5 separate regions of the Homo sapiens genome follow, and regions 2, 3, 4 and 5 are each linked to region 1. The links come from fine-mapping of genetic effects on plasma protein levels. Region 1 holds a variant in brackets. A gene starts in each other region. All regions are shown on their reverse strands.

Region 1 (4,118 bases):
CCATATACAATAGGAACTGCAAAATAATAAAATCAGTGGAAACGTGACAATATGATTAAATTCTACCTAGAAATAGTTGTCTGCTGGAAGCAAAACCCTCGGCTTGGTTCTGTGAGTCATAAAGGGAAATGAGAAGCCTTTAAGAGAGGCACAAAGCCAATTAGCCATGCAAGACTCACTGATGGGGTCAGAGTGGTGTCACCTAAAGAGAGGACTGGGTCACCGGGACCCGAGGAATGGCCACAGAGGTGGACCCATGCTTAAAGCCTTGAGCCTTACATGCACCATGTGTGCATTTTACCACATCTATGTTATTTACATATATATATATATATATATATATATATATTTAATTTTACTTTAAGTTCTGGGATACATGTGCGGAACGTGCAGGTTTGTTACATAGGCATACCTGTGCCATGGTGGCTTGCTGCACCTATCAACCCATCATCTAGGTTTTAAACCCTGCAGGCATTAGGTATTTGTCCTAACGCTCTCCCTCCCCTTGCCCCCACCCCCTGACAGGCCCTGGTGTGTGATGTTCCCCTCCCTCTGTCCATGTGTTCTCATTGTTCAACTCCCACTGATGAGTGAGAACATGCGGCGTTTGGTTTTCTGTTCCTGTGTTAGTTTGCTGAGAATGATGGCTTCCAGCTTCATCCATGTCCCTGCAAAGGACATGAACTCATTCTTTTTTATGTCTGCAAGTTATATTTTAATAAAGACATTTCATATCTTTCAGGCTGGCAACGGCGGCTCATGCCTGTAATCCCAGCACTTTGGGAGGCCAAGGCAGGCAGATCACATGAGGCCAGGAGCTCAAAACCTGCCTGGGAAACATGGTGAAACCCCATCTCTACTAAAAATATAAACATTAGCCAGGCATGGTGGCAGGTGCCTACAGTCCCAGGTGCTTGGGAAGCTGGGAGGTTGAGGCAAGAGAATCACTTGAACCCAGGAGGCAGAGGTTGCAGTGAGCCAAGATCAAGCCAGTGCACTCTAGCCTGGGCAACAGAGCCAGACTCCGCCTCAAAAAAAAAAGAAAATTAGTATCTTTCAAAGACAGACATGTTAAAATTTTGGAAATGGAATTGGTGTAAGAAATCATTACATTGCTTTAGTCTCTTGACTATGATGGCAGATATAGGATGCTATGCATGTGACCAAATTGTACATAACTAAATACACACAAGTACAAGGAAAATGGGGGAAAATCTGAATAAGACTGGTAGTGGGTTCTATGAATGTTGTGAATGTTAATATCCTGGCTGTGATACTGCACTACAGGTTTGCAAGATATTACCATTGGGGATAATTGGGTAACGTTCACATGAGATCTCTCTGTATCATTTCTTACATCTTTATGTGATTCTTCAATTATCTCAACAAAAATTCCAATGGAAAAAAATGCACAGCATCAAGGAGAAAAAAAAAAAAAAAAAACACATGTTGGTACCAAACAGATGTTCTTGTCATAATCAGGAAGACGGAAAGGGAACTGAGAAGGAAACCACACTCCCAACCTTGGTTCAGGCTCCCTAGGCACTGCCTGTTGTTAACGCTTTGCCATGGCACCCACGACACGGGGGTCCCTGCGGAGAGCATCCCTTACTCCTCCCAGGGGATTCTACCAGCCACCTCTGGGCTCCGCCTTCTGCCAGGACCCGTCCTATTTCCCGCCCAGCTAGAAATAGATGTTCATGCAGCCTCCTGATAAGCTGGGCACTGAAACCCAGAGGAAGTGGCCTGCAGGGTGCCCACTC[G/A]TTTGGAAAAGGCAAAGGTCACACAGCTATAGAAGCCAGCTGGGACCACAATTCCTAGGAATGTCAGCAAGGAGTTGAGGTAGTCTGAGAACTGGCAGAAGAGTAAATGCAGACTTCCCTTTCAACAACAGCCTTTCATTTGATCACACACTTTTCTGACTTCCATCTGAAGCAGCACTGCATGTATATGTATTCTCGTTCTTTGAGTTTGCTAGTTTGTCTTTTTTTGTTTTTGTTTGCTTTTTACAGCAAGAGAAAGGTTCTCAAAATACAGACAACTACCTTAACTTGGATGGCCTGGAATAAATTCTAGAGTTGTAACTGATGTTGAGTCTTCCCATGGAGAACGCTGGTCCTCAACTTCCTACTAAGGACCTTTCGGCTTCAGAGAAAACCAAACAGGAGGAAAGGGAAGGGAAACCACATGCACAGAAACACTGAGTACATGCCCGTGTGCACAGCAGGGGTCCTGACACCTGTGCACTCATGTAAGGCTGAGATGACTGTCTTCCTTCCACAGGTGGGGAGGCTGAAGCAGAGAGAGTCACTGACTCATTCAAGGTCACAATGGTTGAGCCAGAACTTGAACCTGAATGGCCAGGCTCCAAAGTTTGCACTCGTTTTTGAGACATAGTGTTGCTCTGTTGCTGAGGTTGGAGTGCAGTGGCACAATCTCAGCTCACTGCACCTCAGCCTCCTGAGTTCAAGCGATTCTCCTGCCTCAGTCTCCTAAGGAGCTGGGACCAAAGGAGTGTGCCATCATGCCCGGCTAACTTTTGTATTTTTGTTGGAGATGGCGTTTCACCATGTTAACCAGGCTGGTCTCAAACTCCTCACCTCAGGTGATCCACCCACCTCACCCTCCCAAAGTGCTGGAATTACAGGCATGAGTCACCTTGCCCGGCCCAAAGCTTGCACTCTTAACCACTACCAAGGGAAGGATGAAACGAGAAGCCAAGATCCAAAGTGCTCTCCCCTGCAGACAGCAAAAACCTCTTGGCTCCACCAGTGGGAATACGAGTCCATGGCTGACACGTGGGCCAATACAGGGCACCAGGAGATCCACGATCCAGTCCCACTGCCACTACCTTACTGTGTGACCTTGGGAGAGTCATTTTACCTCCCTGGGCCTCAGTTTCCCCCTCTGAGAAATGCAGGGATTGGGTCAGCTGTGTCATTTGGATAGTCTCTAGGGTATGAAAACACTAGTTGACACCAATTCAGGATGAAAATGACTCTGGTCTTGTCCTTGGTGGCCCTGGAAAGAAAGTATAAACGGGTAATGTTGGGGGTTGAACTGCATCCCCCAAAAACATACATAGAAGTCCAGTCCCTGGTATGTGTGAATGTGGCCTTCTTTGGAAATAGGGTCTTTGCAGATGTAGTCAAGATGAGCTCATGCTGGATTAGGGTGGGTCCTAACCCAAGACTACTGTCCTTGTAAGAGGGAAATTTGGACAGAGACACACTCAGAGGGAGAGATGGGAGTGCCAATATCCACCAGCCAAGGGACACCCAGGGTCACCAGCAGCTACCAGAGGCCAGGAAGAGGAGAGGAAGGATCCTCCCCTAGAGCCTCCAGCGGGAGCACTGCCCTACCAACACCTTGATTTCAGACTTCTAAGCTCCACACTGCAAGGGAATAAGTACATTTCTGTTTTAAGTCCCTCATTTTGTGGCACTTGTGTTATGGCAACCACAGGACACTAATATAGGTAATAACATGGTTTTCCTATTATCTTCAATTATTATCATTATTATTATGATTATTATTATTATTATATTTGAGACCGAGTCTTGCTCTGTCGCCCAGGCTAGAGAGCAATGGCACAATCTCAGCTCACAGCAACCTCCACCTCCCAGGTTTAAGCGATTCTCATACCTCAGCCTCCCAAGTAGTGTCACCACACCCGGCGAATTTTTGTATTTTTGGTAGAGATGGGGTTTCGCCATGTTGGCCAGGCTGCTTTCAAACTCCTGACCTCAGGTGATCTGCCCGCTTTGGCCTCCCAAAGTGCTGGGATTACAGGTGTGAGCCACCACACCCGGCCATCTTCATTATTATTATAACAGCTACTTACTAAGTGTTAGCTGTACGTAAGGTAGTATATTAACTGCTTCACCTAAATTATCCCATTTCGTGCCAGCCACCCTACGACAGAGGAGTCATTATTATACCCATTTTGCAGACATAAAATTCTAAGGCTCAAAGCAGACAAGGAGCTTGTCCAAGGTCACACAGTGAATCAATAACAGAGCTGACACCAAACCAAGTAAGTGGCACCTGGAAGGCCACTTCCTCCTCTTTGGGTACCTCCACCTCCTCCCACTGAGAAAAACAGTGTTCATGACACC
Region 2 (4,118 bases), not on the chromosome of region 1:
TTTATTGAGCATACTCTGCTAAGCACCATGCTTTGGTACATGCTAGGTTATCTCATGTGATTCCCCACAAAAAAATCCTAAAAGCAGTGGGCGAGGGTATTATTTCCCAGAGATACTCTAAAGTAACTCAGCTATTAAGTTGGTAGCATGGATATGAAATGAGGCTTGTTTGTTTCTAAAACCTGTGGTTCCTTCCACTCTGTGACACAGTCTCCCCAACTTATTGTTTCTATCCTGGGTTTCATGTTTATTGGGTACAACCTACCTCAATGAAGGCACTTCTGAGCCACCAGAGGTGGCAAGGAAAACAAGGCATAGACTTGCTTGCCAGCAGGAATCAGACTATTCTGAGATCCTAGAGCCATCCATAAAAGCTCATTTTTGTAATTTCTTGGGTTCTGCTTCAGCAACCTGGGTTCTTCTTTCCTAGCTTCTGGCTGCCTGATAGATCGGCCCAACCATCACCCCTCACATCCCATGCAAATGACAGTGCCCAACTCTAGATATTTGCCAACTACTCCACGGAAAATTCTCCCACCCCAAAGAGAGTCCAGTCCATTTGACATAACTGTATACAGAAGTTTTACTTCTGTCTCCAACAGCTGAGTCTGAGGTTCATGGGGCCATTTTTGTCATTTGTCACCCTCTTTTTGTTGCTGTTCTCTAGGACTATGTCATTAGCAGATCAGAGAAAGACGCCTCATTCATACACAAGAATTTGCTGAGTACACACTGTGGAAGCAGGAATGTCCTAGGTGCTGGGAACATAGAGATCACTAGGATTAAGTCTTTATTTCAAATACCCTAGAGTTCTGCTCACCTGTTACAAGGAGTGCTACCTGAGAACAGAGTCCAGAGATTCTGAGCAAAAGCACCTGATTTCCTCATCGGGAACTTCCTTAATGGGAGAGCCAGGACAGCAGCCTAGCTTTGGCAGTTTGGCTCCATTCTGCTCTCTTTATTCAAACTATTGCCTATTGTGTACTGTCTTCCATAGGTGTCTCTTCTGGAAACTGTACTGTGTTTTCCCCCTCAATCTACCTCTTTTTAAAAGCCAGACGCCATCTCAAAAGGGCAAGCTGATAAAAATGGAATGTCGGGGCAGCTATAACCTCTCATCAACAAAGGCGGCTGCCGTGTCTAAGCAGCAGGTTGGAGGCTCACCCAAGGATTAAATAAATGAATTAACAGTTAGAGAGAGAATGTTTTTCAGGCAATATCCTTTGGCAGGATTGTAATTCGCATTCAGTCAAGCTCCCATTTCCCCTTGGCAAAAAATTCATTTAATATGAGAGGACAGTGTGGCTTATTTACCCATTATCATATTTGGCAGTTCTTAAAGTTGCAATGCACCTGTTACTAAAACTCCGGAGTTGTGTCAGAGCCTCAGAAACAGTAAGAGTGGGGAGAAAGTGAAGGAGGTTGAAATTGAAATTTAGGTTAATTTTCACAACTACCTTTGTTCACAGTTCCCTTTCCATTTTTCACTAATTTTTAGAACTTCTGAATTCTTACAAGTTATCAGAAGGAAGGATTTTTTTCTTTGTGGCTTAAGAGTTTCAAACAGACAAACAAAAAATCAACCATCTGTTTCCCTAATTTCCAAGCAATTAGCCAGGTGTTAATTACTCCTCTTGTCAGAGTAAAAGCTGAAGCTTCCATGAAATGTTCTGCTAGTTTAAAATGAGGCATATTCATTCACTTATACACAGAAGTACAGTTTGAGAGTTATGAAGTTTTATAGTTGGTAGCAGATTAGCTCTAATGGCCAGTAAGAAAATAAACATGCATCAGAAAACAAAAATTAAGCAACTATACATACCCAAAGACAAACTTTGTTAAATGCCCAAGTATACCAGATTGAACCAACAGGGATGTGGGGGCAGTTTCCCGGAGACCTGGAGCACCTTTTCATTGGAGTACTTACCCACACAAGTAGAATTCCCATTTCCTGCGAGAGTACCTTCAGGACAGCTCCAGTGCTGCGGTGCTGAGAGACTAACAAAACTAAATTTTGAAACTACTGGCAACAGAATGATAAGAGTGAGCAGCATAATCTTGATGAGTTTGAACTTTCAAAAGAAAACAGCTTGATTTTGCTGGAGCATGGCCCGGGCAAGGTGAGTATGATTGACCCCAGATGCGGCTGCCTGAGCGGAGGCCTCAGCCCTGGGGCATCTTTTACTCTCCTGTTGTGCTGTTGTCCTCCAAGCTCTTTCTTCAACTGAGAGACCTTCTGAATGCAGCCTGCCAAGGGAAGCCACAGGAAAGATTTCTTTATCTATGTTTCTTTGGAAGCCAGTAAGAAATACCTGACACCCTTATGACAAATTTCACAGAGTTTAACAGCCCTGCTCTGGCTGACTTCACTGTGACAGAGCAAGGCAAAGGCTTAGAGAGGAAAAAGAAAGGAAGAACTGATGGAAAGTTCCAGCTACAACCCTTGGATTGGGGCTGAAAGAAGAAATATGGAGATACGATTCCTCTCCCAACAGTTTCTCTTTTTGAAAAGTGGAATGACTCAGCTTTGCTTTTTAAAGCTCTTCAGGCTCCACCTCCTTTCCTTTAGTGACACTTGAGTGAGCCTCTGTTTGCAAATGCGAATGTGGGCAATTCCTCCACACAGGAAAGCAGGGATGACTGCCAAAGAGGAGATAACTCGCTACTCACCATAAATATCCTGGGCAGAACTGGGAGAGAGGAGTTGGGGGCTGTGGAGGTGCTCATGGTGAATGGCGGGAACTGCTAAATATTGGCTATGTTTTAATGTCTGGAAGGATGGAGACAAAATTAAACCATGCAGTATAAATCAATAATAAGCAGCACTGTTGATAGTTTGGATTGATAATAATTGATCATTCACATGAGCAATAGTAAAGATAGTTCACCTTCAGCCCATTATTTGAACGAAATGTCAATACCAGTGCACATTCCAGGAGCTTTATCTTATTTTTCTCTTTCTCCTGTATAGTTTATAGCGGAATTTGAAAGATTATTCTTTCCAAATCAAAGGGAAATCCCTGAGGCCAAATGAAGAGATACAGTATGGACAGACACCTTTTCTTTCAGCATGAGCATGATAAAACATCACGAGGGGCCAGGAGTGCAGAGAAAGGAGTGGATTGTTATTATAGGGACATTGGAAAAAATAAGCTAACAGTGCAAAGCTGGGAAGCACTGGAAATCCAGCACAGAGGAATGCTTTTCCTTCTAAGATAATTTAGGCTTTTTTTTTTTCACATCTCTGTGATAGAAAATAAGAACTGGACGTATCTGTTAGCTGTCTCCTCAACCACTTTCTACTTGGAGCAACAGTGGTTATTTCTTCAGGAGTACAACTAGGGCCCAAAAATACCCAGAAGGCAAACAACTTATAGCAGATTTGATGCACGATGGAAATTTCTGTCAGTTTACTCCATCCTGGAAAATGGACTTTCATTTAAGTTACCCTGAGGTAGTGTTCCAAGTGCTGGTCAAAAATGTACGTAAAAGCAATAGTCACAAAAACAACTGTCACACTAGTGAACACCCCATTACAGAGGAGAACAGACTAACTCTAAGCCTTTTACTCATACTTAATTATGTCCTGATTATTCTCCAAAGACTGGATCACTTTCCTGAAACAGCTTAAGTCAGGATTTCTCCTATTTCAGCCAGCCTCTGCCAGGCAGCTCTGAACCCTTACAGGAGAAACAGACCCTGGGGAAGGGGGAAAGAGAAGTCCTTTAGGTGGTTATGCGGAATATTCCATTGCTTTCTGGACTGAGTCAGACTCAAGACTCATAATGAGCATCCTACAAATAACCTGCACTGACTCTTCGAGTTACTAACTTTATTAATAAGCTTCCCTTTCAGCACAATACATTGCCAGCATCCCAGATGACAGCAATGGAAGGGGCTTAGAGGACAATCAAGCATCACGCTGTGTCAGTGGAGTGGAGTGGAGAGAATGATATGAAGACAAACATGAAATGATCCACAGCTCTGTTCTGTTTGGATTTGGAATCTCTCATATTATTTTTGGTTGGAAAAAGGTTTGCTTTCTTAATTACATGTCACCTGGGCTAATGTTGTCATTAATGTTGAGTACAAGCTCCCTAGGAGATGACGGAGTCAAC
Region 3 (4,108 bases), not on the chromosome of region 1:
AGGGAGGAGGGCGCGGGAGCGGGCGGAGGGAGGGAGGCGGGAGTGCGGAGGGCGGAGGGCCGGGCCGGGGGCGGTGCGGCGGGAGGGGGCCGGGGCCGGGGCCGGGGCCGGGGCAGTGCCGCGAGGGGCTCGTCGGGCGGCCGCAGAGTCGGCGCCGGGCCGGGCGGGGCGGGAGGAGCGGCCGGGAGGAGCGCGGGCGGGCGGGCGCTGACCCGGGCCGTACGCGGCTCTACTGCCCCGGGCGCCGGCTCCGGCCCGTTTTATGCCCCGCGCCCGACGCCCCGGCCGGGGGCCTCCTCCTCAGCAAACGGGGCGGCGGCGGCAGCTCGGCGAGGGGCCGGGCTGAGCCCGGGGGGTCCGACCCAGCAGCAGCGGCCCGGATCGCGGGTGGGGGAGGGGAGGGAGGGGCTGGGACCGGGCAGGGGAGGAGGGAGGGGCGGGAGGGGAAGGGGGAGCGGGGGAGGGGGAGGGGAGGGACCAGGGGGCGCGAAGAGGGGGAGGAGAGGCGGGCCCGGAGCCCCCCGCTGCTGGCGGCCACAGGGCGGCTGGACCAGGAGGTCGGTGTCCAGCCCAGGAAGGGAGCCTCAGGCTAGGGAGGGGCAGAGGCTAGGCCTGAGGCCTGGACCGCTCTGTGAGCGAGGACCCGGTTCCGCCCGAAGGATGAAGACTTGTCTTTAAAGATGACAACGTACAGGAAAGGTCCATCAGCCGATCTCCCCCTGCCTGGGCCCACAGCGCCCCCCAAACCCTCACCACCCTCTCTCACTGCCTAGCCTGCCTCCCTACCTTCTCTCTGAGGTCGCTCCTCATTCTTGTGTTACCCAGGACAGGGACCTAGCCAGAAACCGGCAGCATTCCCCCTTCTGTGGAGTGACAGTATCTCCCTCTCATTGTAACTTATCCTCAGGCGCATTCGACAGTCCCCTCTTGCTTTCTCACCCCCTTCCTTCACCCAAGGGACCCTCTGCCTCTCCAGCCCACTCCCAGCCTCCTTTCTCTTGGTTCCCTGGTCATGCCTGCCTCCCTGTCTCCTGTCTCTCCCTCCCACACACACCCACTATCCTCCCAGCTATCCCAGCACCCTCCTTCCTAATCTTGGGAGACATCTCGTCTGGCTGGACGGGAAAATTCCAGGATCTAGGCCACACTTCTCAGCAGACATGCCCATCCTTGGGGAGGAGGAACAGGAGAGAGCCTGAGGAAGTTCTGGGGGACAGGGGGATGATGGGATCAAGGTCAGGCCAGGAAGCCCCTGAGGACAGAGACTGTGGGGAGACTGGGACTGGGAAGAAAGCAAAGGAGCTAGAGCCAGGGCCAAAGGAAAAGGGGGGCCAGCAGGGAGGTATTTGCGGGGGAGGTCCAGCAGCTGTCTTTCCTAAGACAGGGACACATGGGCCTGGTTATTCCTCTTGTCACATGTGGAACGGTAGGAGATGGAAGACGGAGACAGAACAAGCAAAGGAGGGCCCTGGGCACAGAGGTCTGTGTGTGTAGCCATCTAAGCCACTGGACCCCAGCAGACGAGCACCTAAGCTCAGGCTTAACCCAGTGCACGTGTGCGCACATACATGTGCCCCGCACCTGACAGTCCACTCAACCCGTCCAAACCCTTTCCCCATAACACCAACCCATAACAGGAGATTTCTCTCATGTGGGCAATATCCGTGTTCCCACTTCGAAAGGGGGAATGACAAGATAGGACTCCCTAGGGGATTACAGAAAGAAAAGCAGGAAAGCAAGCATCCTGTTGGATTTCAGCAGCAGGTATGATGTCCAGGGAAAAGAAATTTGGATAGCCAGGGAGTGAAAACCCCACCAATCTTAAACAAGACCTCTGTGCTTCTTCCCCAGCAACACAAATGTCCTGCCAGATTCCTCCTGGAAAAAAACTTCTGCTCCTGTCCCCCTCCAGGTCCCAGGTTGCCCATGTCCAGGAAAAGATGGATCCCCCTATCCAAATCTTCTCCGTGGTGTGTGTGGGTGGAGGAGTGGACCCTGGTCCAGGCAGGGGCTCCAGGGAAGAGAAGGCGTCACTTCCGGGGGCCTTCACCAGTGTCTGGTGGCTCCCTTCTCTGATTGGGCAGAAGTGGCCCAGGCAGGCGTATGACCTGCTGCTGTGGAGGGGCTGTGCCCCACCGCCACATGTCTTCCTACCCATCTGCTCCCCAGAGGGCTGCCTGCTGTGCACTTGGGTCCTGGAGCCCTTCTCCACCCGGTGAGTGGCCAGCAGGGTGTGGGGTTATGTGAGGGTAGAAAGGACAGCAAAGAGAAATGGGCTCCCAGCTGGGGGAGGGGCAGGCAAACTGGAACCTACAGGCACTGACCTTTGTCGAGAAGAGTGTAGCCTTCCCAGAATGGGAGGAGCAGGGCAGAGCAGGGGTAGGGGGTGGGGTGCTGGTTTCTGAGGGACTGATCACTTACTTGGTGGAATACAGCACAGCCCTGGCTGGCCCTAAGGAAAGGGGACATGAGCCCAGGGAGAAAATAAGAGAGGGAGCTGCACTTAGGGCTTAGCAAACACAGTAGTAAGATGGACACAGCCCCAATCCCCATTCTTAGCTGGTCATTCCTCGTTAGCTTAAGGTTCTGAATCTGGTGCTGGGGAAGCTGGGCCAGGCAAGCCAGGGCGCAAGGAGAGGGTAATGGGAGGAGGGCCCACTCATGTTGACAGACCTACAGGAAATCCCAATATTGAATCAGGTGCAAGCCTCTTTGCACAACTTGTGAAAGGAGGAGGAAGCCATGTGGGGGGTCCTGTGAAGGAACCGGAAGGGGTTCTGCCAAGGGGGCAGGGAGGCAGGTGTGAGCTATGAGACAGATATGTTAGTGGGCGCCTAAGACAAGGTAAGCCCCTAAGGTGGGCATCACCCAGCAGGTGCCCGTTCCTGGGCAGCTGGTCTCAGGAAGGAAGTCCCAGAACTGTTAGCCCATCTCTTGGCCTCAGATAATGGAGTATTTCAGGACTTGGAGTCCAGAGAAAAGCTCCAGTGGCTTTATGTGTGGGGGTAGATAGGGAAAGAATAGAGGTTAATTTCTCCCATACCGCCTTTTAATCCTGACCTCTAGTGGTCCCAGTTACAGCTTTGTGCAGTTCCCCTCCCCAGCCCCACTCCCCACCGCAGAAGTTACCCCTCAACATATTGCGCCCGTTTGCCAGTTCCTCACCCAGGCCCTGCATCCCATTTTCCACTCTCTTCTCCAGGCTGAAGCCACAATACTTTCCTTCTCTATCCCCATCCCAGATTTTCTCTGACCTAACAACCAAGGTTGCTCAGAATTTAAGGCTAATTAAGATATGTGTGTATACATATCATGTCCTGCTGCTCTCAGCAGGGGTAGGTGGCACCAAATCCATGTCCGATTCACTGAGGAGTCCTGACAAAAAGGAGACACCATATGCTTTCTTGCTTTCTTTCTTTCTTTCTTTCTTTCTTTTTTTTTTTTGAGACGGAGTTTCACTCTTATTGCCCAGGCTGGAGTGCAATGGTGCGATCTCGGCTCACCACAACCTCCGCCTCCCAGGTACAAGCGATTCTCCTGTCTCAGCCTCCCAAGTAGCTTGGATTACAGGCATGAACCACCACACCCTGCTAGTTTTTTTGTATTTCGTAGAGCCGGGGTTTCACCATGTTAGTGAGGCTGGTGGCGAACTCCTGACCTCAGGTGATCCACCCGCCTTGGACTCCCAAAGTGCTGGGATTACAGGCATGAGCCACTGCACCCGGCACACCATATGCTTTCATCACAAGAAAATGTGAGAGAATTCAGGGCTTTGGCAGTTCCAGGCTGGTCAGCATCTCAAGCCCTCCCCAGCATCTGTTCACCCTGCCAGGCAGTCTCTTCCTAGAAACTTGGTTAAATGTTCACTCTTCTTGCTACTTTCAGGATAGATTCTTCACCCTTGGCCCGCCTTTGCCCCACCCTACTCTGCCCAGAAGTGCAAGAGCCTAAGCCGCCTCCATGGCCCCAGGAAGGATTCAGGGGAGAGGCCCCAAACAGGGAGCCACGCCAGCCAGACACCCCGGCCAGAATGGAGCTGACTGGTGAGAACACACCTGAGGGGCTAGGGCCATATGGAAACATGACAGAAGGGGAGAGAGAAAGGAGA
Region 4 (4,106 bases), not on the chromosome of region 1:
TATCGCATTTAAAAACAGGACCTGAGAACTTGAGTAGACATAGTAGATAACTATTAAACAATAGGGAAAATTGGCTTGAAAACAAAAACATGATTTAAAAAATTACTATATTCATCTTTTTGATAGAGAGTAATTTTGAACATTTAGTATTTTAAGCATTTCTTCTAAAATTTAAGGATATGAAAAGTAAGAAAAGAATATGGAAAATTTAAATAATATTCTGTGAGACTTATACATAGTTGTAAAAGGAAGAAAACTTGTTGCCAGTGCCACTTACATCTGCCTCTTCTTTATTGACAATCTTCCAAATAAATTTAAATAGCATAGTTGCTTTGGGTCCTGTCGAGTTTGGCCTGGAATTGTAGGTGATTAGAAAGGATAGGGAAGCTTTCATGTGATACGTATTCATTGATTTATTAATTATTTAAGACCTACTTTATATTGAAGTATCCTACATGTTATAGGATACATGAGACATTCAAACAAACACAGGACATGCCACTCCCTACAAAAGTGCATGGTTCAATTGAGGAAGGAAGTCTTACAGATGGGACAGAGAACCAGAAAATAACATAAAGCCAACATGTAATGTGTAGGTCCACCTCTCTATCTTTGTAGGGATATAGCATTTCAGACCAAAACCTTTAATTTGGGTCTGAGAATTCAGGAACAAATATTTTCCTTGGTAAGGACATTTCTTGCACAATTTCTAATAGTGCAAAATTGGAAACACCGTGAAGGGCACCAACAAGGCAAGGTTGAGTAACTATTGTTCTTATCACAGGACGTCACATGGTCATTAAGAAGAATGGGGGAAAACTACATTAAGATGACCTGAAAAGATAAGGAACACATATTTTTTGAAGGATAAAAGTCAGCTGTATAGTGATCCATATACAATACTTCTATGTATATGTGTACCTCTATGTCTTAAACGTGTCTCATTGTATACATATACATGTGTGCATATAAGTGCAGACAGAATTGAAAACTAATGCAAAATTGTTACCAGTGTTTACCACTGAATAGTAGGAATGTGGAGAAATGATGAAGAGAAATTTGTGTTTTATTTCAAAGACATCTGCAGCATACGAATCTTTTGCAATAAATTATATAATTTTTCTGTTAAATTAAAAATAAAAAGAAAAATAAATATGCTGGGTCCTACTTTTTAGGTATTCTTAGGTGGTAGAAACAAGTAGCTTCTTTTGTAATATAAAGGAGGATGAGTTTCATTTGTAGTTTCTAGATGAAATTACAAAAGATAATATAGATTGAAGGCAGAAAGAATCCAATAAGCTAAAATCCAAAGACAACCTTTGACGGTAATTGGCTCTTATTTTACTTACATGCTCCAAACCAATCCCAATATTTATCAACATTCATGAAAAGAACATTTGCTTTCTTTGGCAAGCAAAGATAACTTTCTCTTTCAAGGGCCACATGTTTGTGCCTTCAGGTGCTCCTAAAGTTTCTATTAAGCCTAAAAACTGCAGTATAGAAAAGGCAGGGCGTATTGTTATAAATCATACAAAGAAAATGCATGTAGTATTTCAGTCTAGTTCTTACCTTCCTGAACGGAGTTCTTACACAGGTGTAAGGAAGATAAGTATTGAGAAAGGGAGAGTGGGAATGTGAAGTGATGCACATTAAGCAAGTTAGTAGGAATTTGACCTGTCTGGTCTTTCTCTGGGTTGGGCACAGCTTCAAATGCTTATGTGTGTATCACCACATACCCTCACTTCCTCCTTTCCTACCTCTTCCTTCTTACTGGCTTTGAGAAAGAGCATATAAATGACATCTTCAGGGCATGAGAAGCCACTTATCTGCAGACTTGTAGGCAGCAACTCACCCTCACTCAGAGGTCTTCTGGTTCTGGAAACAACTCTAGCTCAGCCTTCTCCACCATGAGCCTCAGACTTGATACCACCCCTTCCTGTAACAGTGCGAGACCACTTCATGCCTTGCAGGTGCTGCTGCTTCTGTCATTGCTGCTGACTGCTCTGGCTTCCTCCACCAAAGGACAAACTAAGAGAAACTTGGCGAAAGGCAAAGGTAGAGGCCCTGCTTCTCTGCACTTGTTGCTGCTTCTGCTACACCTGTCTCTGGGGTAAAGACTAGCTTGGTGCCTTTGGGGCTGGAGAGGGCCATTATACCAATAACTCCAATTGGAGGAGACACACAGGGGGGTCACTTCTCACTTCTTGTGTGCTGGGCAATCTTCTGGGCACTTTACTAAAGCGTTACAGATCATATTCACAATGGCTTTATGAGAGAGGTACAATTGCCCTCAATCTGCAAATAAGAGACCTGAGGAAAATATTCATGACCACCAATAGGTCACATTTTCTACCCTAGAGGAAAGTCTAGACAGTGACTTGTATGCTGAACTCCGCTGCATGTGTATAAAGACAACCTCTGGAATTCATCCCAAAAACATCCAAAGTTTGGAAGTGATCGGGAAAGGAACCCATTGCAACCAAGTCGAAGTGATGTAAGTTGCTGTTTCTGTGCTATTGCCTTATCAGAGAAACCCTCTACCTCCATCCACATATGCACTCGTTTCCTCCAGTCTCATGGATTAGTTCTGATATTCAGATCAGGACACCCACAGATAACCCTGTTCTCTTTTGCAGAGCCACACTGAAGGATGGGAGGAAAATCTGCCTGGACCCAGATGCTCCCAGAATCAAGAAAATTGTACAGAAAAAATTGGCAGGTGATGAATCTGCTGATTAATTTGTTCTGTTTCTGCCAAACTTCTTTAACTCCCAGGAAGGGTAGAATTTTGAAACCTTGATTTTCTAGAGTTCTCATTTATTCAGGATACCTATTCTTACTGTATTAAAATTTGGATATGTGTTTCATTCTGTCTCAAAAATCACATTTTATTCTGAGAAGGTTGGTTAAAAGATGGCAGAAAGAAGATGAAAATAAATAAGCCTGGTTTCAACCCTCTAATTCTTGCCTAAACATTGGACTGTACTTTGCATTTTTTTCTTTAAAAATTTCTATTCTAACACAACTTGGTTGATTTTTCCTGGTCTACTTTATGGTTATTAGACATACTCATGGGTATTATTAGATTTCATAATGGTCAATGATAATAGGAATTACATGGAGCCCAACAGAGAATATTTGCTCAATACATTTTTGTTAATATATTTAGGAACTTAATGGAGTCTCTCAGTGTCTTAGTCCTAGGATGTCTTATTTAAAATACTCCCTGAAAGTTTATTCTGATGTTTATTTTAGCCATCAAACACTAAAATAATAAATTGGTGAATATGAATCTTATAAACTGTGGTTAGCTGGTTTAAAGTGAATATATTTGCCACTAGTAGAACAAAAATAGATGATGAAAATGAATTAACATATCTACATAGTTATAATTCTATCATTAGAATGAGCCTTATAAATAAGTACAATATAGGACTTCAACCTTACTAGACTCCTAATTCTAAATTCTACTTTTTTCATCAACAGAACTTTCATTCATTTTTTAAACCCTAAAACTTATACCCACACTATTCTTACAAAAATATTCACATGAAATAAAAATTTGCTATTGACTTGTTGTCATCTATTATTAATTTTAACAGGATTGTTGGGGAAAAAAAGCTTTAATTTTCCTCTCTTTTTTGTATACTTGGTATTTCACAGTTTGAACAACAAAAGTTACTAAATTGATGATCGGTGTCATTCTTAATGTAGTATGATAACAGTTCCAATTTATTAATCATTTTAATATGCCAGGAATACTAAGTGTTTTCCATGCATGAACTAAACAATTTTTTAAAAGATAGATATGATCTGGTTAAAAGAACATCCTCTGGAGTTTGAATAATGAGGTAACCTGGCTCTGCCACTTGTTAGCTGTGTATATCAGGTCATGTTGCTTAATTTCTCTGTACCTTAGGTTCTTCATCCCTAAAATGGGGATAATATTGCCTCCCTCATAGAGTTTATGGAAGGATTAAAAAAGTTAATAAATTTAAGGTATTTAAAATAATGTGTGTCATAAATAAGCCACACATAAATGTTAGTAATTATTTCTTATGATTATTATTATCCTCCCCAGTGTTACAGAAGAGAAAAATCAAGTT
Region 5 (4,118 bases), not on the chromosome of region 1:
ATGTCAGAGACATTCCTCTCTGGACTGGAATCACCACAGGCTCTCCTGCCTCAGACTCTCTGCGAGCACTCTGGACTGAAGGGAAGTGAGGCCATTTGGCCTCAAATTTCAACTCTGCCTCCTATTAAGACACCTTAGGCAAGCTCCTCAATCCCTCTAAAACCCAGTGCCCTCGCTTGTAGAAACAAATAAACAAAACAACCACTTCCCCTACTTTGCAAGGTTTTTGTGAGGTTGAAAGAAATAACATTCGTGGCCAGACATGGTGGCTCACGCCTGTAATCCCAGCACCTTGGGAGGCTGAGTGGGGTGGATTACTTGAGGCCAGGAATTCAAGACCAGCCTGGCCAACATGGCAAAACCCTGTCTCTACTAAAAAAAAAAGAAAGACAAAAATTAGTCAGGCATGTGGTGCATGCCTATAGTCCCAGCTACTTGGGAGGCTGAGGCAGAGAATTGCTTGAATCTAGGAGGCCAAGGTTGCAGTGAGCCAAGATTGCGCCACTGCACTCCCGCCTGGGTGACAGAGTGAGACTGTCTCAAAAGAAAAAAAAAAAAGAAAGAAATAACATTGTGAAGGTCCTTGGCCAGGTGACTGGCACATAGTAGGTCCTCAATAAACACTGGTTTCCTTCATCTAACGCCCAGCAACATGATGTCTCCATGAAGGCCAGGATCTTGCCTGGTCACCTCTGTCTCAGCACCCAGCAGTGGACCATATTCAACACTTAGTCCAGTGTTGAATACAGTTCACCTCTTCACACAACACGCCTGGGTGGCTTGTTAGTATGAAAATAACTTTCTTATAAGGAAATCAAAGAAAGCCTGATATGCATTGGCAAGACAGACATAAGCACATCACCAACTAGGGTGACCCGTCCTGGTTTGTTCAGGACTTTTTCAGTTTTTGCACAGAAAGTCCCAAGAAACCCCTCAATCCCAAGCAAAAACGGGAAGTTGGTCACCCAATCTCCCACTTCCACAAGGCCCAGCTTAACACATTAACTGATTTTCTCATGCTCCTGCTCCCAGTTTCCCATTCCTCACTCCCTTGTTCCCAAAGGAAGGAAGGAAAAAGAGGAAAAAAGGTGAGACGGGAGGAGATGGGAGTGAGGGAGAATGGCCTTTCCAGGCCCTTTTCTAGGTCTTACCCTCCAGATTAGGGCAATACGCCCCTCCCACCCATCCCCAGCTGCTGTAGTCTCTCTGACCACTGGTGCTTCCCCTGTGTCTGAGGTCAGATAGTTTATTAGGTTTATTACTCACACTTTGTCCCAGTTCCTCGAGCCCAATTCCACAGGGCAACATGAATGAGAGCCAGGTGCCTCCTGTGCAGGCAGTGAGTTTGGATCACAGGAGAGAAACCCCCAAATTAGGAGACTTGGAGTTTATATAGAGAATCTGGTATATCTTCCTCTCTGGAAGAGAGAGAGAGAGAGAGAGAGAGAGAGAGAAACGTTTACTCTGGAATGTAAATCTCCGGTGAAGAAGAGGAAGAATGCGAGCAAATCTCTGGACGTTGCACTCAAGGTATGTTTGCTATTCAATCACCCTTCAGCAAAACTTGGCCAATACCCTTTGCACAGAAGGACTAGAACATGCAGCAATGTGAAAATATTTGTGAAGAATTGTCTTCCAACAGAGAAGATAGAGCATTCATGAAACAAAAATAGTATGCCAGAATTTAAAAATGCTCAAAGAATAAGGAATATCTTGTCTTGTAAATTAAAAATATTAAAAAATAACATTTTAAAAGACAAAAATAGAAGGATGGAAGAAAATGAGGAAATCTCCTTGAAGGCAGAACAAAAGAGACAAAAAGATGGAAAATGAGATAGAAAAGATATGAAAATGAGATGAACACACGACATTCAATAACCAACTAGTTAAGGAATTGCAGAAAAATGGAAGGGGAGAAGAAAATGGACATGTAATTATCAAAGTAAGAATTTGTTTCCCAGAACTGAAGAATGTGGATCCAGATGGAAGGGTTCTATAGTGTCCAGGACAATAAATGAAGAAAGACCCAGTCCAGGGCACAGGATCAAGGTGAAACTTCCTGTTTGAGGTTGTACTGCATACAACCTCCTAAAAGCTTGGGTGGTCGTGGGGCACTCCCAAAGAATTGAGAGCAAGAATGGCATTGAGTGAGGTGCAGGGCACTCTACCTTCCTCCTTCATAGCTGTGCACCCTCAGATTCTGTATTAGGAAGATCCTGAAGATCATCTTTCCTCTTCCTCTCCTGTCCTCCAATTGTCACAATCCTCCCATCTCACCCCTTAGCCGGGCCCCAGCCCCTGCAGGCTTCTAGCTTTCTTCGGGTCTTCTCATCCTGTCTTGCCCACCCTTACCCTCAGGGCAGTTCCTGAGCACTGAGCCAACCAGGGCTTGGAAGAACTCCCTTTCCCCACCCCTGGAGGTGCCCATCATTTCCTTTCTCCCACCCCAAGTGACTTTCTGAGGCAGATGTTTCCTGCCCTCAGGCGAATGCTGCATCAGTGCCCAGGCAAGCCCAGGAGTTGACATTTCTCTGCCCAGCCATGGGCCTCACCCTGCTCTTGCTGCTGCTCCTGGGACTAGAAGGTAAGGTTCAGGAGGAGCTGCAGCTCTGGGCCCCATATGCTCAGCCCCATGTCCAGGAGTAACGTGTTATTGTGAATGCCACACCCATACCAGCAGCTGGGCTGGGAGATGCTCCCAGCTCCTGCCCAAAATTCCCACCTCCTTTCCTTCCCCAGGTCAGGGCATAGTTGGCAGCCTCCCTGAGGTGCTGCAGGCACCCGTGGGAAGCTCCATTCTGGTGCAGTGCCACTACAGGCTCCAGGATGTCAAAGCTCAGAAGGTGTGGTGCCGGTTCTTGCCGGAGGGGTGCCAGCCCCTGGTGTCCTCAGCTGTGGATCGCAGAGCTCCAGCGGGCAGGCGTACGTTTCTCACAGACCTGGGTGGGGGCCTGCTGCAGGTGGAAATGGTTACCCTGCAGGAAGAGGATGCTGGCGAGTATGGCTGCATGGTGGATGGGGCCAGGGGGCCCCAGATTTTGCACAGAGTCTCTCTGAACATACTGCCCCCAGGTGAGTTATCCTAGGCCAGCTACCACCCCTTAGACCTACCCTCCCCACCCCCGCCTATTGCCAGGGCTCATGGGTTCTTGAGGAGTGGGGGCCCCTGGGGAGGAGGCATTCCAAGGAGATATCCTCTTGACAGCTCTGCAGGGAGCGGAAACCAAACTGGGTGGGAAGTCTGAGATAAATCAGCTGAAAACCATCCCTTTCCCCCTTCCACACTACTGCGCTTCCCCACAGGAAGGCATGTCCTTCCCACTCCAGGGACTTGGCCTCTTCTTCCAGCATTTTCAACATACTTGATGCTAACTTATTTTTTAATTAGAAATATTTTAAACAATGTTGAATCTGAGTGTATAAAACCAGAATTAATTTTTGTAGCTTCCAGTGTTTTATTCCTGTAATAGCGGGCTTGATGGCTTAAGAATTATGGAATTCATACCTTAATTAATTTTATAAGTCTTCACAGGCCATCTAGTATGTCTCACCTACAAGTAGGTACATTCAGTGCCTGAACAACTTCAACTCCTTTCGTTTTAAAAATGGAAAAATGTCATTAATATTTTAAGCCAATATTCTTGACCCTATTTTCAGTATTAAAGACACTGTTTTTGCAGGTTTCATTCCCACAGCCCATAACTTTTCTAGTATATAAGCATTTGTTAAAAGAAAATTTTAAAATATTAAAAACTTGGGTTTTTTTTTTTAAGAAAGATAGGATGTTCTAAAAATAAAAAATGGTCAGCTACCTGAAGCACAGACAGCCACTCCTTTTCTTTTATGGATACTGGCCATTTTTTCACCTTTAGGTCTTCCTTTTCTCATATTTTATGCCCAACCCCCAAATAATAAAATTAAGTAGAGCATTTTCCCTTCCCTTGTTTTTTGTTTTGTTTGAGACAGGGTCTCACTCTGTTGCTCAAGCTGGAGTGCAGTGGCACTATCGGCTCACTGCAACCTTGGCCTCTCGGGTTCAAGTGATTCTTGTGTCTCAGCCTCCCAAGTAACTGGGACTACAGGTGCCCACCACCATGCCCAGCTAATTTTTGTATTTT

Alleles and levels. Alleles are on the strand shown, and positions count from the first base shown. The strength of an association depends on the size of the effect and on how common the allele is.
With allele G in place of A in region 1, the plasma level of the protein whose gene starts at base 2,507 in region 2 is lower (weak association).
For the plasma level of the protein whose gene starts at base 2,083 in region 3, G is the low allele of the variant in region 1 and A is the other (weak association).
In carriers of allele A in region 1, the plasma level of the protein whose gene starts at base 1,821 in region 4 tends to be higher than with G alone (weak association).
As copies of A replace G in region 1, the plasma level of the protein whose gene starts at base 2,483 in region 5 goes up (weak association).

Evidence for each region. A credible set is the group of variants that fine-mapping cannot tell apart. PIP is the posterior inclusion probability: the model's chance that the variant is causal. Protein levels are from antibody-based Olink assays in UK Biobank. Linkage for the fine-mapping came from a reference panel and not from the study's own genotypes, which makes the PIPs less certain.
Region 2: EGF starts here. The variant in region 1 is the best candidate, but not a certain one, in a credible set for the plasma level of the EGF protein (UK Biobank, PIP 0.76).
Region 3: it holds the start of THPO, and the variant in region 1 is the best candidate, but not a certain one, in a credible set for the plasma level of the THPO protein (UK Biobank, PIP 0.57).
Region 4: PPBP starts here. The variant in region 1 is the best candidate, but not a certain one, in a credible set for the plasma level of the PPBP protein (UK Biobank, PIP 0.79).
Region 5: TREML1 starts here. The variant in region 1 is the best candidate, but not a certain one, in a credible set for the plasma level of the TREML1 protein (UK Biobank, PIP 0.78).

The regions. Positions count from the first base shown.
Region 1 is chr16:81,835,010-81,839,127 of GRCh38, reverse strand. The region is part of intron 2 of PLCG2 (phospholipase C gamma 2); the gene reads right to left. Among named protein-coding and RNA genes, the nearest start is that of PLCG2, 58 kb to the right of the region's middle. RefSeq lists an enhancer at 1,956-2,145. The variant G/A (reference allele first, on the strand shown) is at 1,764.
Region 2 is chr4:109,911,272-109,915,389 of GRCh38, reverse strand. It overlaps EGF (epidermal growth factor), which reads right to left and starts at 2,507. Exons shown (of 24, transcript NM_001963.6): 1 at 1,928-2,507. The coding sequence starts at 2,054.
Region 3 is chr3:184,376,182-184,380,289 of GRCh38, reverse strand. THPO (thrombopoietin) reads left to right here and starts at 2,083. Exons shown (of 6, transcript NM_000460.4): 1 at 2,083-2,215; 2 at 3,886-4,043. The coding sequence starts at 4,031. It overlaps CHRD (chordin), which reads right to left and starts at 236. Exons shown (of 23, transcript NM_003741.4): 1 at 1-236.
Region 4 is chr4:73,985,905-73,990,010 of GRCh38, reverse strand. PPBP (pro-platelet basic protein) reads left to right here and starts at 1,821. Exons shown (of 3, transcript NM_002704.3): 1 at 1,821-2,055; 2 at 2,359-2,494; 3 at 2,637-3,572. The coding sequence starts at 1,908. The coding sequence ends at 2,739.
Region 5 is chr6:41,152,712-41,156,829 of GRCh38, reverse strand. It overlaps TREML1 (triggering receptor expressed on myeloid cells like 1), which reads left to right and starts at 2,483. Exons shown (of 6, transcript NM_178174.4): 1 at 2,483-2,584; 2 at 2,740-3,072. The coding sequence starts at 2,542.